2 separate regions of the Homo sapiens genome follow, and region 2 is linked to region 1. The links come from fine-mapping of genetic effects on gene expression. Tissue or cell type: stomach. Region 1 holds a variant in brackets; the other region holds the start of a gene. All regions are shown on one strand. Distances are between the middles of the regions.

Region 1 (9,319 bases):
TTCTGTCGAGAATTCTTGTCAGTCCTCTGAGGATGACTTCAGTAGTCTAATAGTTATGCACATGGACTCTGGAGCCAGTCTTCCTGGCTTCAGTGCCCAGTTCTGCTTTTGGGCAAAGTACTGACCCTCTCTATATCATCATTCCCCATCTGTCAGTGGGAGATGAAAATAACAGTACAATTACACCATACAGTATCTGGGAGGATTAAATGAATTAATACAAGAGCAGTGCTTAGAAGAGTGTAGCAAGTGCTATTACAAATATTATATATATGTATATTACATATGTATTACATATATGTAATATTTGTAATATGTATCTAATATTTATAATATATATATGTATATATATTTTTGGTTTTCCTTAATTTGGAACGTGTATGTACCTGGCTCCAATCCTCCACCTCTCCCATAGTCTAGATGTTTTGCATTCTCCAAATGTGTCCAAACTTTAGCAACGTATTTGTTTACACCTATATTTAGCTAATGTGTGTGTGAAATTACCCATTATGTAAATGGCTTTGGTTTAGTAAGCAGAATATGCGAGGATATGGTTAATGGGAAATTGTTTTGTGCAACTTGGAAAATGGAAGAATCATAAAAGAATCCTTTGGAGACACAGTCTGATCAAGGGATAACCAATACATTTGCAGGTTTTTGTTTTTAAATAATAACCAGCCACTAATGGCCTGGAGCAGAATATTGATTTATCTGCAGCAAGGTAGGCTCTGTTTCCCTGCTACATTGCCAGCTGTCCTCTTCAGCATTAAGCTGCCTCACTTCAATCCAGTATCTGTCAATCCAGTTTTCAAGGAGGAAGCTTTCAAACAGTGAGGAGGGCTGGGCGCAGTGGCTTACACCTGTAATTCCGGCACTTTGGGAAGCCGAGGTTGGGAGGATCACTCGAAGTCAGGATTTCAAGACCAGCCTGGCCGACGTGGTGAAATCCCATCTCTACTAAACATACAAAAAATTAGCAGGGTGTGGTAGTGGGCGCCTGTAATCCCGGCTATTCTGGAGGCTAAGGCAGGAGAATCGCTTGAATGCGGGAGGTGGAGGTTGCAGTGAGCCAAGATTGCACCACTGCACTCCAGCCTGGGCGACAGAATGAGACTCCATCTCAAAAATAAAAATAAAAATAGGCCAGACACGGTGGCTGAGTCTGTAATCCCAGCACTTTGGGAGTCCAAGGCAGGTGGATCACTTGAGGTCAGGAGTTTAAATCCAGCCTGGCCAACATGGTGAAACCCCATCTCTACTAAAACTACAAAAATTTGCTGGGCATGGTGGCAGGCGTCTGTAATCCTGGCTACTCGGGAGGCTGAGGCAGGAGAATCATTTGAACCCGGGAGGTGGAGGTGAGCTGAGATCACGCTATTGCCCTCCAGCCTGAGCAACGAGAGTGAAACCCCGTCTCAAATAAATAAATAAATAAAAATAAACAAACAAGAAACAGTGAAAAGGCTTTGTCATTTTTGTGGATGGTTGCTGGAAGATTTTTCTGTGCTTTATTTGGTAGGAGTCTTTTACTTTTTGCTGAGCTAGAATCTAGCCTGTTATGCACTGTGCACTCAAATTCCTTGGCAGACTGATGAGGCTCTTAAATTCTTTCAAAAAGAAGGCTCTTGAAATTGGCCCTCCCTCAGGTGCCCACTGTTGCCTCGGGCAGAACTCCCCTTCTATCTACGCAAATCTCCCTCTAGACTGGGAGGGCCTGGCCCCGCTATGATGGGTGAGAATAGCATTAATCCGTGTGAGTTGATCATATGGAACAAATCCCTGAAGGAAAGCTTAAAAAAAGAAAAAAAACAAGTGCCTAAAAGGCAAAACCAAAACCAAAATCTTAACACTGAGCTTTCTTCAACATTTTTTTTTCAAAACAAACAAACAAACAAACCCAACAACAACTAAGCTAGGTATGCAGATATCAGCGGAGACCCTTAGTTAAGCCTAAGTGAAAAATTCCTCCATTCATTCATTCATTCATTCATTAACGTATTCACTCAACCTTATTTATTTTGCCCCTCTATGTGCTAGGTATCTTGCTAGACAGCGGGGTGCAGGGAAAGTATACAATTAACTAAGACAAAGATACTTTCAATATTATTTTCTTTATGGAACCTGAGATTGAAAAGCAGATGTCCCAAAGGAAGCCTTGTATCCCTATTCAGTGTGAACCCACATTTTGCTAGAAGTTGTGTTAGACATGGGGAGTATATGGAGGTTATCCCCAAATCTTTTTTTAAATATATTTTTCTCCTCCCTCCTTTCTATCCCCAACTCTTAATGAGGGGGGAGATTTATCATAAAATAGACACAGTGTACATATTTAGGGCCATCTTCTTATGAGGTCACCTATTTCCCCCTCCCTAAGATATCCAGCCTTAACCCTCAGGCCTGTGAATGAGATGTGATATCACACTCAAAATTATGTTGCATTTCATGGCAAAAGGGATTTTGCAGCTGTAGTAAAGGTTATCAATCAGTGGTCTTTGAGTTAAAAGAGCAATTATTCTGGTGGACCTAAGTCTAATCACTTTCAAAGTAGAGATCAGTGACTAAAGAGGCAGTGAGAAAAATAATAAAAAATAATGATTAAAAAAAAAAGACAAAGCTGAGAGTTTCTCCATATGGGAGCAGAAGAAGAAGTCAGAGGGGGAGGCTTTGATGTAAGTGGGGTTTTTCATTGCTGAGATGGGGAGGATCATGGGACAAGCACCACAGGGCAGCCCCTGTGTGCTGAGAGTGGTATACAGCTGTCAGCCAGGGAGAAGACAAGGACCTCAGGCCTACAGTCCAAGGAGTTAAATTCTGCCAGTAAATTCTGGTCAAAGGAGCTTTGAAGCAAATTCTTCCCCAGAGTCACTAGAGAAGAACCCAGCACCAATGACACTTTGATGTCAGCCTTATGAATCCCTAAGTAAAGAACCCAGTTGAGTCTGCCTGGATTTCCAGCCTTCAGACTGTGAGATTATAAATGGGAGTTGTTTTAAGCTGCTAAATTTTTTGGTCATGTGTTATGCAGCAATGAAAAAATGAATAGCTTATCCTTGGTTATTCTGCATTTTTATAGATAGTTTGTAGTTAAGATATCTTAAAACTTAAATGGATCCTGAGAGGCCTATGTGGTTCTTAGCAATTGATAATGAAATTACCTTCTTATATTTGTATGACCCCATTTACAAAGTACTTTTGCATACAATTTTCTTATTTGATTTTCACAGCTTGTGAGGAATCTTTATTTCTAGTTAAAGACAAAGAAAGTGAGAATGGGTCATACTGTGCCTTGTTGATGCTTCCTGCTAAGTGGTAGAAGAGGGATTTGAATTAAGACCCCGGCACTCTCATTTGACCTAGGCATGCTCATTAGAAAATTGACAGGTTACCCTACATACAGGTTCTTTTTCTATCTTGTTTCCTCTTCATTACTAACATCATCATCATCGTTGTCATCAGTGTTGAGGGGATCCTTCTCCTCCTGCTTGTTTACTAAATGCTCATGAACTAAATCATGACAGTGAAAGCAAACTTTTTAAAAAGTCAAAACATGTATTGAACACCTATGATGTACCATGAAACTTACCATTAACAGGGCAAATAGAATGACAAGTGTCCTCTTTGTTGCATGCCACAACATCGGGTTTTGGAAATCCACCAAGAGGATGCTCTGCTAATGCATGTGGAATAGATAAAAAATATAAATAGACTTCTTTTTTGTAGCTAGCTCACAAAATGAAATAATGCATCAATCTTTTTTGTCTCTGTAACTTTTTTAAAAATTCTGTATAAACATTTTTTCTGTGAAATAGTTGGGAAAGAAATATGAATAGTTCATATTTCCAGATCATTCTAGAAAAATGGTTAGGGCAATTTAATTTGTGTTGGAGAGATTGGAATCTAGGAGAATATGAGGTAAGATTCCCAGTGTGTATTCTTTACCAGTCTCATAACCTAGTAAATCTCCCTCAGCCCTCTTCCCACCACACCAATCCCTATAGAGTGGTGGGACTGTGAACCGGACTTGGGAGGGCCATTGAAACTTGTGCTCCCTCTTCCACACAACTCTGCCTTTCATCCCTTTGAATCAATCCAACTGCCCTAGAAGAAGCCTGCCGGATTGAAAACAAAAGCTAAGCCACTCTCGACATAGAGCAGAACATCCCACTACCCTGAGCCATGATTCTTTGCTGCGTTTCTCTTTCCCTCTCTTTAAATTTCACCTCCTGCCCAGGAGTCTTGTAGGATAGAAGGAAATAAAGTATAAGAGTAAGGTGTAATGTGGCTTGAGCCACTGACTGTCAGGCACGCCTATCATCATCTAGTCAGACAATTTAGGGTTAACGTAGAGGGCCTAAATCCGTCTGTCAGTGTCTGTTGCATTCTGCCCCTGTAACAACTGTTGTTATGGGAATGGAATCATGTGAGGGGTGACTCCCTCCCTGCAAGAACACCCTGTGCACAGACGATGCTCTGAGGAGTTATGGAGGGCTTGGAAAGGGCTTGTTTTGTGACCGGGGGCAGCTCTAAAGGCGTGTTTAGGAGGGGTTTACGGGCTGCAATCTGTTGGGGCTTGTATTCAGGCTGAGTTGGCATGGCAGGTCCATTCTGCATTTAGATTACGATTGCATGTGGGGTAGGTGAGGGATAACTTCCCCCTCCCCTTACTGTACCCCCTGCTCAGCAGTCACTCAGTACATCGTTGTTGATAAGCCATTGTCTTGTTGCCTCTAAGTCTGAGGACACCCTTGGTGTGTGGCTCCCATGACTGATTTTTTTTTTTCCCCAGATAAAAGGGACATGGGGCTAGTAATCTGCATCCTGTTTGGTTAATGAGAAAAGCAAGACTTGGTCAACCAGAGACTCTTACTTACAGAAATAACCTATGACAGAAACAAAGAGAGAGAATGGAAAGATTCTGTGTTCGGTATGCATGTGATAAGAAAAAAATAGAAGTCCAAATCCAAAAAAAAAAGGGAAAAATCCATTATGCCTATTTCACTTCTATCAAGAACAGATTTTTAAAAAATCAAAGTCCCATCTGTTCTGTGTCAACATTAGAGA[T/C]TGTACATTGTGTTTTATCAAAGGCAGGTTTGCCATGGCAGTGGGGGTTATATTTTTGGAACGTGCTTGGAAACCCAGAGCCGCTGAAAGCAGAGCCTGGCACCTTGAGGCCTCTCCTGCTGCCTGTGTTTGTGTTCCTCCAGCACTTGATGTTTTAAATTGATTTGTTTGACCAGAGGTCCCTGGAAAAAGAGAGCAGGTAAGGGCAGCTGCCTGGGGCTCCAGAACAAACACAGGTGAGGGCCCAAGGCTTTCAGAAAAACAAGGCAGTTTTTTTTTTGTTTGTTTGTTTTTGGTTTTGTTTTTGTTTTGAGACGGAGCCTGGCTCTGTCACCCAGGCTGGAGTGCAGTGGTGCAATCTCTGCTCACTGCAACCTCTGCCTCCCCGGTTCAAGCGACTCTCCCGCCTCAGCCTCCAAAGTAGCTGGGATTACAGGCACCTACCATCGTGCCTGGGTAATTTTTGTCTTTTTGTAGAGACGAAGTTTCACCATGTTGGGCAGGCTGGTCTCGAACTCCTGACCTCAGGTGATACACCCACCTCAGCCTCCTGAAGTGCTGGGATTACAGGCTTGAGCCACCACACCTGGCCAGGGCAGTTTTCTTGAACGAATTTGTACTCTGCACTGCAGCAATCACAGTCGCTCCGTAGTCTCAAGAGTTCACATTCAAGGGGTGCTGGCTTAATCCATTCAAGAGTTATGCTGGGGTAGAAATCCAGTCCTGGAATCTTCTTTCTGTTCTTCTTCATCTGTTCCCCAGGGTCACCCTCAGTTGGTCAGCTAATAAGGACAGGTAGACTTGCTCCTAACTGCTTAGCTTCCAGGCCAAAAGAGAAGAAGATAGACAAAGCCATCTACCACCCCGGCTGCTTTCTCCCTCTGCCCTGACCAGTGCATCCAATGTCAATTCCATGTCACTCTAGTTACTCTGAGGACAAAACATGATGTTGTGTTATGATTCAAAGGAAAAGGCTCCCATCTCATTCACACCCTTCAATAGTTGTTGCTTTTTGAATACATATTGTTGCTATCAGGATCGTATCGCTGCTCCTGAAAAATAATTCCAGCCTCTTCTGGAACTAGAGGTGGGGAGAGAAGTCCTGAAAGAGATGTTTGTTCAGGTGAGTCACTGAACGACTCCTTCAGTAGCATAGATTTAGAATGAACAGGCATCCATCAGGAAAGTGGTGATTGAGAAGGGCAGAACTTTGGTCATGGTGTCATTCACTGAGATGCCTGGCTTGCAAAGCTGATCTCTGAAGAGGAAAAGAAAAAAACAGTTTGAATTAAAAGCCCAATGACAAAAAGAAGCTAGGAAGATGGGCCAGGATGGAGAAGGGTGATCCAGCTGAAGCCTAGTGACAGACAAGATCAGAAAGACCCCCCCCAAACACTAGCTTAGGTAGGTGGCCCAGGCTCTAAGTGGAAGGGGAAGAGGAGAGCTGGCTTTGGCAAAGTAGTGGCTGAAGCTGTACCCAGGAACACTGGTTAAGCTTTGGAGCCAAGTGGCTAAGTTTGTCATCCACTACAAGGATTCTCTGTGTTCTGATCAATGACTTAGATCAACAAGGTCATCTCAGTAGCAGTAGAGGTGCATCAAATATCAAGTTAGGCAGGATCAGTTTCATAGTGTCACAGTGTGGCAGTGAGAAGAAATTATAGCTGACAGATCAAACCTCAGCTTTTTCTCTTCTTGCTGCAAAGAATCAGAACAACAGCCCTGGCCCCACTCCCCTTAAATGGATAGCCCCACTCCCCTGATATACTTATATAGCCATTGCTGGAAAAGGTCTCAAGTCTGTGTCTTTCTGTTAATAGGCTAGGTGGATATTCCTGTGATGATTTGAAAAAATGACAGAGCTATAGCCATATTTGGAAGCCACACTGCAGCAGGCATATTTTATAATTTCACCTCACATACTCTGAGCTTGAGAGTGAAATTTATAGCTGAAATTTTAGAGTTATTTTAGGAGTAAAGCTTCATTTTTTGCCTTTTTAAAGTAAAAGCTAATCTGCTCTATCCCCAAAATATTTTTATTGGGGAAAGTGTATTCTGAGATATTTCTGACCCCAAAAAGAGTAGGTATGGAAATCTGAGCCACATCTTTCAAAGATACTTTTGTGGGGATTGGTTCAAAACCCCTAGTTACATCTAAAGAATGTGCTGATCATTGCTACATTCCTGGAATTCCCCAAAAGACTTAAGCTGGAGACCCTCCACCAGAGAGAACAGTTCTCATGGTAGAGCCAAGACCCAACCTCTAAAAAGAAAATTCCTGAAGGGATTAAAGGGGCCCTCATTAAGTTCGCATTAGTGAAAACAATTTAACTTGAGGTTACATTAAATCAGGGCACCACTGCTAAATGGGTTAAGGGAATGTTTCTTGGTGCCCCTTTATGGCAGTGGTCAGGGTGGGGGATGGGTAAAGCAGTGGAGAACTGAATAGCCCTCACTTCAGTTTATGATCAATGAACCCTTGATGTGTTCATATTGGAACTAAGGCTGTGATGGGCTTAACGTGTTTTGAGAAATATTTTCTCTGGGCTGTAATGATTGCTTCTTCAGGGGAAGAAGAATGCCTTTTTTTTAAGTTATAATTTTCAATCTAAATGTTTATCGAATAAAGGAAAGAATAAATAAATATCGACTCTGCAGTCAGGAGGCCTGGGTTTCAATCCAAGGTCCAACATATTGACTTTTGTCACTCCGCTGTCACTGCTCTGATAGTGCATCTTATCTTTTTTATCTCCTTGAATTGTAATAATCTAATTTATATGTCAGGTTCCCCAAACTGGCCTGTGAATTCCTTAAGGATAAGGGTTATATCTATTGTCAGGCCTCTGAGCCCAAGCCTGCACATATACATCCAGATGGCCTGAAGTAATTGAAGAATCACAAAAGAAGTGAAAATGGCCGGTTCCTGACATTACCTTGTGAAATTCCTTCTCCTGGCTCAGAAGCTCCCCCACTGAGCACCTTGTGACCCCTGCCCCTGCCCACCAGAGAACAACTCCCTTTGACTGTAATTTTCCACTGCCTACCTAAATGCTATAAAACAGCCCTACCCCTATCTCCCTTAGCTGACTCTCTTTTTCGGACTCAGCCTGCCTGCACCCAGGTGATTAAAAAGCTTTATTGCTCACACAAAGCCTGTTTGGTGGTCTCTTTACACGGACATGCGTGACACCTATGTCTTATTCGTTTCAACAGTTTATTGTTTAGCAAGAGGCCACATTTGCTACAGTTTATGGTAAAAACAAGAGCTCTGGGGATAGATTGCCTGGCATCACATCTTGACTCCAGTTCCTAGCTGTGTGATCTCAGGAAAGTTGCTTAATCTCTCTGTGTCTCAGAATAAAACTAGACAATGTTATCACCAATCTCACAGAGTTATGTGGAAATTAAACCACAAATACATTTAAAATGTTTGGGACAGTGATACATACTCAGCAAAATCTACAACTACTGTTTTCCTTATTATCATTGTTGATAATATATATTTGTCAATAAACGCACCAATACTTTATTCATCTGTTTCCACACTGCTGATAAAGACATACCCAAGACTGGGCAATTTACCAAAGAAAGAGGTTTAATTGACTTACAGTTCCACATGGCTGGGGAAGCCTCACAATCATGGCAGAAGGCAAGGAGAAGCAAGTCACATCTTACACAATTGGCAGCAGGCAAATAGAGCCAGGCAAAAGGGGTTTCTCTTTATAAAGCCATCAGATCTCATGAGACTTTTTCACTACCATGAGAACAACATGGGAGAAACCACCCCCATGATTCAATTATCTCCCACCAGGTACCTCCCACAACCCGTGGGAATTATGGGAGTACAATTCAAGATGAGATTTGGGTGGGGACCCAGAGCAAAACCATATTAAATACTTTATCTCCCTGACCCTGTTTTCTTATGTATAATATAGGGACTATTATATAACAATAACAATAATAACCTGAAGTGCTGTTGTGAGGATCAAACGAGACAATGGCTAACAGTCAAAATGTCTTTTTAAAAAACCACAATGCACTTTGAAACTCTGTTACCGTTATTTCTAATATTAACTGCAGCACAGAAAGAAGTGATTTTCTCATATGTCCACAGTCCGAATGAGGCCAGGCTAGGTTGGAATATTCTTGGTGCTTCCAAGGGCCCAAAGTACTGCTTAGCTGGGATGTAAACTGTCTAAGCCTCTGGGATTACTGTGCTTTTTTCAGTACTTACATTAAGGTACAACCACAGGTCTTT
Region 2 (9,319 bases), 130 kb before region 1:
GCCTCCTCCGAAGAGGTGTGTGGGATGTGACACTCGGGTCACTGTTGGGGGGATGAAGCTGCCGTATGGCTGAGAATTCAAACCCAACTAATATTTCTTTATCGAACTGCTGCTCTTGGGGAAGGCATTTTCCCAGCCTGCTCTTTGCTTTCCTCCAGCCTCCATCTGCCTGGGATGCCTTTCCTCCCACAGCCCAGGCCTCTGTGGGACCTGCTTCCTTTCTTGCTCCTGCAGTCCATTTCCTGTAGGGCAGCTGCCTGGATGCCCTTAAACTCAAAGGCTCGCCCACCTCTCTACCTGCACCTCCTGTCATAGCTACATTCACTCACTGTACTCTGGTCACAACTGTAGTCTTTCCTTTTTCCTAATCACTTCCAGTCTTTTCCCCCTCTAACCTTTGCTCTTGGTCTTCCCTCTGGAGGTAATATCAAGGCTGGCTCCTCATCCTTCAAGTCTCTGCTCATTTCTATTTCCTCAGGAGCCCTTCCCTGACCATCTTAACCCAAGTAGGCCACCCCCATTACCCTCTCCTTACTGACAGCTATTCAATCCCATTTCCCTATTTTACCTTCTTCATAGCCCTGCTCTCTCTCTCTCAGATATTTCCATTGATTCATTTACTTATTTATTATTTGCCTCCTCTCATCAACATGTAAAAGCCATAAGAGCGGGGACGTTGCTTGCTACATCCACAACTGTATCCTTGGAGTCTGGTAAACCCAGACACCCAAATATTTGTTAAATATTGTAGAATCTGTTGGATTCTATTTAAAACAAAGAAGTTAAAAGCATGGGCCTGGCCGGGCACAGTGGCTCATGCCTCTAATCCCAGCACTTTGGGAAGCTGAAGTGGGCAGATCACCTGAAGTCAGGAGTTCAAAACCATCCTGGCCAACATGGCAAAACCCCATCTCTACTAAACTTATAAAAAAATTAGCCCAGTGTGGTGGCAGGCACCTGTAGTCCCAGCTACTCGGGAGGCTGAGGCACGAGAATCGCTTGAACTCGGGAGGTGGAGGTCGCAGTGAGCCAAGATCACGCCGTTGCACTCCAGCCTGGGTGACAGAGTGAGACTCCATCTCAAACAAACACACAAACAAACAAAACAAAAAGCATGGGCCTGGAAGTAAAGTGGGCTTGTGTGATCTTTCCACCTACCAGCTGGGAGAAGCCATGGCCTCTCTAACCTTTCTTCTCCTTTATAAAAGAATCAAGAGCTCACTCCATGGGAGTTATTAATTTTAGAGTTGTGTTTCCCCGATGAGCCCAAGACCCTGTTGGCAGGCACTTGGTCATTAATCTCTGTATCCACCATGCCTTGAAACATCACCTTACCGCCCCAGCATCCTCTATGTCTTATTACAGGACATGTCACAGTGTCCCAAAGAGTCTATTTATTTCTCTGTCTCCTCCAATATGGTGACTACCTGGGGACACGAACATCTAAGAAACCTAGCACAGTGCCCATTGTAGAATTGGATGCACAGTGATTAAGACTAGCAGGCACCCAGTATGTCTTCATGAAATGTATTTTGAACCAAGTCCTCTTTAGAAAAGACATGAATAAATATATTAATTAGAATATGAACTTTAATACATGAATTAGAGAATAATACCAGATAGTATATGATCAAGTGCTGAGTTACACATATTCAGGTAATAAAATGTGTAGTACAGGTATTGGATGGCAAAGGTGGCCAACAGAGAGCTTCCTGGACCAGGCAAGGGACCTAGGTACGTGAGGTGTGGGGGACAGGGACTGGATCCAACTGGAGAATATAGTTCACCCGCAAGGCAACTACCACTTCTCTCCAGCAATTTGTTGCCATCCTGGAATATGGGTCTGATTGTCTCATATCTTTATTTTATTTACAGACAGAGTCTCACTCTGTCACCCAGACTGGAGTGCAATGGCGTGATCTCGGCTCACTGCAACCTCTGCCTCCCGGGTTCAAGCAATTCTCCTGCTTCAGCCTCCTGAATAGCTGGAATTATAGGCGCACCCCACCACTCCCGGCTACTAATTTTGTATTTTTAATAGAGATGGGGTTTCACCATGTTGGCCAGGCTGGTCTCGAACTCCTGATCTCAAGTGATCCTGCCTTGGCCTCCCAAAGTGCTGAAATTACAGGCATGAGCCACCACGCCCAGCCAAGTCTCATATCTTTAGATTTTTCAAATGAAACTGGGAATATGAATTTTTTAATATCTCCCAAGTTTTCAAATTGTTGACAACAAGCTTAAATTTATTAAACAACTATTTGAAATGAGCAAAGCATGTCTGAGAGCCATGTTGTAATCTCTGACCAAATGTTCCAGGTGACAAGACGGATGTTGAACCCTCAACAGGCATTCATGGAAGAATCTACACTAGACGCCAGCTATCAAAAGGCAACATTTCTTCACTCACTCACTCACAGCCCCATAAAACCAGGAAGCAATTCTTGACCTGTGGCCAAATTTTCCCCTAAGGCATCCATCAAGCATTTATTGAGTACCCACTCAGTGCCAGGCATTCAGATATAAAATGGATCAGGGCTTGTTCCCTCTGAGGCTTTATAGTTGGTCAGTTCAAGATATGTTGTTGAGCCACTATTGTGCACCTGAGAACAGCTCATCAAGACAAAAGGAGACACACCTAGTCAGCTAGGCATTGCTTCCTCACCCACCAGATCTCTGACCTAGAGTGCTGGTAGCAAATTGTCCTACAACTGTGTCCTCTCAGTTCAATTCTCCCATTCCCAGCCATCCCAGTAGCACCTAGGAGCAAAGTGGCCTCCCAAATCAGGCAGTAGCAGAGGTCTCCCAATCTGATGAACATAGGATGACCAGCCATAATCTCTATAAGCCTAACTCTTGTCTATAATATGGTGATCATATGATGGCAACAAATATCACTCAGGTAACAGCAGCCCCCCACACCATTTGCTATCAAAAGGACTGGGGTGTGTTGGATTCATTCAGTCACATGCGCCTGAGGCCAGCCAGTCTGAAATTATTGAAACAGAATCGCACAGCACACAGTAGTCTCATGTTGATCTAACTTATACTTCAGACTTGCTGAAGGACTAATTTCTATCACAGCCCTGCCAATATTGATTGTTTGGACTCAAAATTACATAAGTAGAATGATTTTTATTTTTTTCTCCTAAACTAGAAAGGATCACAGTAGTGCTAGTATATTCCTGTTTCCACTGGCTGGTTATACATGCTGGAAAAAATTAGTCAAAAGAAAGCAACTGAAGACAGAATATAGGTCTTGAATCGCATTCTTAAGTCCCCTACGAATAAGTCTGGGTGCTTGCAGTAGTGCCTAAACTTGTTTATTGTAAACAGAGCTGTTAATCCTCCACCCTCACCGGACCCATTATTTTAAAAAAATAAACAACAACAACAACAAAAAAAACACTTTGGTAGCCTACATTTAGGTAAAAGAAACGAAACCAGTGGAGAGGTGGAAGTGTCCTTTTGTGGTGGAGGTTAGTAGGCATTACTGGTCTCCTGTCACTTCCCTAAGTCAACAGGAAGGAAATATATCCACTAGGGCCTCTGCTAATTTGTTTCTAATTTAAGGACAATTAGAATTAGGATGTAGGAATTAGGCAATTCCTACATCCCCTAACCCCCCACCCCCCCAAAAAAAAGCAGTCAGAGCTGCACGCTTCTCTCACTATCCAACGAACTGGTACCTCTCTGGAAATAACGGAGGTTATGAACTTTGTACTAACTTCCAGGGGTATCTAATAAACAGAGCGGTGGTCTTGGGACCCAGTCAGTGAATAAGTCTTCGTTCTGTTTTATACTGTTTCTTTTCTGCGATTTTCTTTTCTACCCCAAAGTTTCCCACTACTAACTCTGAAAACACCTCTAGGATGACGCACTCTTCGAGCTGTCCTGGTGAAGAATCCTTTCTTGTGACCTTTAGGGCAAGAAATATGTTCCAGGAAAGAAAAGAAACGACTGTTCCTCCTTCTCCAGGTACTCTGGGAAAAAACAGGTCAAAGGGAAAAGGCGCAAACACCAAACTCTCCTTCCCTTTCTCATTTCCACACTGGCAAGTTGTGTTTGCCTTCTAACTTGTCTCGGAAGGCAAGCAGAGCTCACAGCACCAGCCCCAGGCGGCGGGTGGATTATTTACAGGGGGATTTAAACCCGCTCCGGCGCGGGGGCGTGGCCGGGCGGAGTCCCGAGGCCCGAGTGGGCGGGGCGGGGGCGGGGCTCCCGGCCGCTCGGCGCAATGTGAAAAAGACCCGAGCTCGGGGAGTGAGCGCCTGTCTCTTTAAATGCCACGGGCTGCGCTCCCGCCCGGGAGCCCGGAGCCGGATCTACAATCCCGTCCCTCCAGCTCCGGTGCTTGTTGCTCGCCCGGCCCAAGCGGGAGCTGTTGCCGCCAGGCTGCGAGGCTGCCGTCCTCTCCTCCTCGCGCCCCACCTCCCCCGAGAGCTGGCTGAGGAGGGGCAGCAGCCCCAGCTGGCGGGAGGAAGCGCGGTGTGAACAGGGATTGCCCCCCGCCTTCAAGTATCGGGGCGCTACGCAGCCGCGGGGGAAAGACATGCCCCTAGTCTGCCCGCTGCGCTGCCCTCTGCCCAGCCTCGCTGCCGCCCGCGCCGGGAGAGGAGGGACTGCCGAGCCTACACCTTCAAACTCGCCCTAGAAGTCTCGGGGCGCGGCAGGGAGCCCTTCCCCAGGCCCCACGGCCTTCACCTCTCCGCGGGTGAGTTTGTGCAGGTAACCCGAGCCTGAGGGCGGGCGCGGGGGAAGGGCGGGCGAGCCGGGAGGAGGTAGCGCTGCAGGTGAGCCAGGTAGGGTGACTCACCTGTCCAGGTCGCGCTCTGAGATCCTCGCTTGTTCCTCTGGGGATGGATGCGTTGGTGGGGAGGAGGCGTCCCCGGGGCTAGTTAGGGCCCGAGGGTGGGAGGGGAAGTTAGCAGAGGAGGGGGGGGATTGGCGTAAAGTTTCTCTTTCCTTCCCTCTTCCTGCCCAAGCTTGGCAGGTAGGGCGCAGGCGGAAGCAGTAGAAGCTGCTGATGCAATGGGCTTTTGCCAGGGCCAGGCGAAGGGCTGGGGACAGGGAGAACAGGAGTTGCCCAGTCTCCTGTGACCGTGACCTTACAGGTGGAGAAACGAGGGAAAGCTCGCTACACCCGAGACTTCCCCCTAAAATGGCTCCAGGTGCTGAGCCCCCACCGATTCTTTTTCGGAACAAAACGCCCTTTTCACGGAGGGGCTCCTGCATGGCTTTCTTGCCTTCCTCTCCCAACAGGTAGCCTCAGCCCCTGTCCGGGGACCTGTGCAAATGACCCTGGAGTTGGTTTCGCTTTCTCCCCTTGCGGCGGTGTGAACGTGTGTCCGCAGCGTGATGGGCAACCAGGTGGAGAAATTGACCCACCTAAGTTACAAGGAAGTTCCCACGGCCGACCCGACTGGCGTGGACCGGGACGACGGGCCCCGCATTGGGGTCTCCTACATTTTCTCCAATGACGATGAGGACGTGGAGCCGCAGCCGCCGCCTCAGGGGCCAGATGGCGGCGGCTTGCCCGACGGTGGGGACGGGCCGCCGCCGCCCCAGCCGCAGCCCTACGATCCGCGGCTGCACGAGGTGGAATGCTCCGTGTTCTACCGGGACGAATGCATCTACCAGAAGAGCTTCGCGCCGGGCTCGGCGGCGCTGAGTACCTACACGCCCGAGAACCTGCTCAACAAGTGCAAGCCGGGCGATCTGGTGGAGTTCGTGTCGCAGGCTCAGTACCCGCACTGGGCCGTATATGTGGGTAACTTCCAGGTGGTGCACCTGCACCGGCTGGAGGTGATTAACAGCTTCCTGACTGACGCCAGCCAGGGCCGTCGCGGCCGCGTGGTCAACGATCTGTACCGCTACAAGCCGCTAAGCTCCAGCGCCGTGGTGCGCAACGCGCTGGCGCACGTGGGTGCCAAGGAGCGCGAGCTGAGCTGGCGCAACTCGGAGAGTTTCGCCGCCTGGTGCCGCTACGGCAAGCGCGAGTTCAAGATCGGCGGCGAGCTGCGCATCGGCAAGCAGCCCTACCGGCTGCAGATTCAGCTGTCGGCGCAGCGCAGCCACACGCTCGAGTTCCAGAGTCTAGAGGACCTGATCATGGAGAAGCGACGCAACGACCAGATCGGGCGCGCGGCCGTGCTGCAGGAGCTCGCCACGCACCTGCACCCGGCGGAGCCGGAGGAGGGCGACAGCAACGTGGCGCGGACTACGCCGCCTCCCGGGCGCCCCCCTGCGCCCAGCTCCGAGGAGGAGGACGGAGAGGCAGTGGCACACTGATGGGCGAGCTGAGCGCAGAGCTGCGAAGGGGAACTGTTTGCAGTAGCAGCCGCTGCTCCCTTTCTCCCTCTCTTCCTCCCTCTTTTGCCACTGTCTGGGCCCCATCTGGGATTCCTGGGCCCTTTGGAAAAGAGTTGGTGAAATGCGCAGCCGGCTGTGGACGGGGGAGGAGGAAGGGGACAGAGGGAGCAGGTAGGAAACACTTTAGTTGGGGGTGGGGGGCGTCTCCCTCTGGCCCCCTGTCTGTCTTCCTCTCCGCGGTGGAGCAAACTGTGGACTTGCCTGGCACTTAAACCTTGGTAGATCTGGGTTTATAATCGGCCATTCTTAAGCACGTGGGGTTGGGGGAAAGTTCGGAGTACCCATTCCTGCCGTTGCTTCCTATCCTGGGCTTGGAAGAATCCTGGTAGAAAGGCCAGAGTGGGTTTGTGGAGTCGCCACTGCGGGACCAGCACGAAAGCTGCTTGTCTGCTTTGGCGGAGCTGAGCTGTGTATGGGATCCAGGAGGCTGGGGTGATTTATTTTATGGGATTCCTGGAGCGCAGGGCTGGTGAATCCATGACAAGGTCCGGGAGCAGCAGACCAAAACCACAGCAGCCTCCTATTAAGTGTAACAAATAGTTAAGCAAACTCGGGCTACAAACAAAGACTTTGCTACCTCCCTCCTCCACAACCCCCAAGTAATTAGCCTTCTGGAGCTGGCTCTTAGCTGAGGCTCCTGCTACCTCCTGCTCCACCCGCCCCTTCCTAGGTTACAAGTAAATCATTGTCAAGGGCCAGCCAGGGGAAGGTTTCAATTAAGGTTCTGTTCTGCTGCCTTTGTTTCTCCCCTGCTGTTGTAGGCACTTACAGCTGCGTTGTTATGAAAGGAGGGAATAGCCCTTTGTGTCTTTGATCTAATTAAACCTGCTTGGCTGTGTTTATCCGCAGGGCAGGTCACAGATAGGGTTGGCTGTGCCACTCCATAAAGTATCTATTGTGGAAGCAGCCAAAAAGGGCTGCTGTGGCAGGAATTGGTTAATTTCTCCTTCCACTTCCCTTCCTGAATAGTGAAGGGAGCCCTTTTAAAACAAGGCTTTGGTGGTAATCCTGTGATTTTTTTTTCTCCCCCATCCCCTCACTGGCCCATCCCTCTCACCCTCACTTTTGTTCTGCTGGTGGGTAAAATCTTAGGCTGAACACATATTTCAATGGTAAGATACTTATTTTGCTATCCACACTTGATGCAATTGAATTCAAGGTGCAAAGTCTTGTACTGAAGCAGTCTCCTTGTTGCTTGGAGAACACCTCCTTCAGAGCCCTTTGTTAAATAAGAGGGGCGACGTTGATCATAGATGCCACCTGGTTAGCACCGAATCTGACTTTGGTGACAGTCCTAAAGCACAGTTGGTGATTGTGAGATCTGTTAGCGGCAGGCTGAGCAGATACTACTTGGTTTTGCTTGGTATGAGATACTACTGTTTGCTTAGTATGAGATTTTTTCCAGCCTGTCTCTTAAACTCCTGTGACATCTTCAATGATATGTGCCCTCAGTTGCAGCATAGCTTCTCTGCTGCCTATTGCCATTGCTGTCTCAAAAGTTGAGTGAATTTTGAGGCGTCTTTTTTTTTTTTTCCTCTCTTGGGAGTCGTTGTAAACTACTGTGTACAAGTCATTTTGTGATATGATTCTGAACAGTTGGAATAGAATCATAGTTAAGTGGTACAGCCATGGCTATCGTCAGGCCTGTTGCCTGGAGATCTCTAAGTTAAGGCAACAAGACTTAAAGAATTTTCTAATACACTTGTTTCACACATGGACGTTGAGGCCATAGTCTTTAAAAGCTTGGACCTTTGTAGCACCTCAACATGAAAGGGCATTAGCTATGTTTCCTGTTTTTACAGTGATCACCAAACAGATCTTGCCACTTTGATTGTTAAAAATGAACCACATTCTAGCCCTGGTCTGGGACTTTGGAGGGAGATGAATTTCTTGTTGGAAATGTAAATCTAGTGTCCATATTTAATACTCTCACAGCTTTGTGTTTATTCTCTTTGCTCATGGAATAGCAGAACAAGATAAACATGGGTTAAGACATTTAGGAGAACCTGCTGTATCTAACCCAGTTGGATTTTCTTTCATGCTTAACACAGTAGTGAAAATAGAAGGTAGGCCGGGCACAGTGGCTCATGCCTGTAATCCCAGCACTTTGGGAGGCTGAGGCAGGTAGATCACCTGAAGTTAGGAGTTCGAGACCAGCCTGGCCAACATGGCGAAACCCTGTCTCTACCACAAATACAGAAAATTAGCTGGGCGTGGTGGCAGGCGCCTGTAATGCCTGCTACTTGGGAGCCTGAGGCAGAAGAATTGCTTGAAGCTGGGAAGCAGAGGTTGCAGTGAGCCGAGATCGCACCACTGCACTCCAGCCTGGGCAGCAGAGCAAGTAGTAATAACCACCGTGTAGACAAGTGGGAGGGAAGAATAGAATGGCACTGTCCAGCTCTGGGCTAGCCAGATCAACTCCCCCACCCGTCTTCTTCCTCTGTCCCAGAATGGAAAATGATGTATGGTCAGTCACGCTGAAGTATAGCAGCGACTGTGTTAAGAGAGAGCAGTGACTCTCTCTTCTAGAGAAGAGGTTTTCAATAACAGGGCTTGGAAATGAACTAGAATAGGAAATAGATCTTTTCAGATGCTGCTTTCCCATGTAATACAAGCGTTTCTACAGGGTACCAGAGGTGTGAAATATGTGACACTTAAGAACAGTGATTTTTATTGGGAATTTTCTTAGGGTTATTACACTTAAAGCAACAACCAACTAGTAACAGCTCCAGGAAAGGGGAATGAATCAACTCTTGGTTCTTTCCTGAAGACGGCAGTGTTGTGGATAAGTGAGTTTTTAATGCCCTGGCAGTGGCTACATTTGACACTTTAGAAAAAATAAACATATTTAATAATTTTTGTTTCTCCTTAGGAATAAGACTGTAGAACTGTTTTGTACTGTGAATTACGGATGCTCTTTGAAGGAAAGAAATATCGATTCTAATGT

Which allele goes with the higher level. Positions count from the first base shown, and alleles are read on the strand shown. Sizes are in standard deviations (SD) of each study's normalised expression.
In carriers of allele T in region 1, the expression in stomach of the gene that starts at base 4,270 in region 2 tends to be higher than with C alone (small effect, 0.16 SD a copy in GTEx).

Evidence for each region. PIP is the estimated chance that this variant, and not a neighbour inherited with it, causes the effect.
Region 2: it holds the start of LRATD2, and the variant in region 1 is fine-mapped to the expression of LRATD2 in stomach (GTEx, PIP 0.93).

What each region holds. Positions count from the first base shown.
Region 1 is chr8:126,421,885-126,431,203 of GRCh38, reverse strand. No RefSeq gene overlaps it. Among named protein-coding and RNA genes, the nearest start is that of LRATD2, 130 kb to the left of the region's middle. The variant T/C (reference allele first, on the strand shown) is at 5,062.
Region 2 is chr8:126,553,429-126,562,747 of GRCh38, reverse strand. It overlaps LRATD2 (LRAT domain containing 2), which reads left to right and starts at 4,270. Exons shown (of 2, transcript NM_174911.5): 1 at 4,270-4,714; 2 at 5,263-9,319. The coding sequence starts at 5,359. The coding sequence ends at 6,291. LOC105375751 (a long non-coding RNA gene) reads right to left here and starts at 4,872. Exons shown (of 6, transcript NR_188069.1): 1 at 4,817-4,872. RefSeq lists silencers at 4,138-4,317, 6,206-6,325 and enhancers at 4,032-4,868, 5,846-5,995.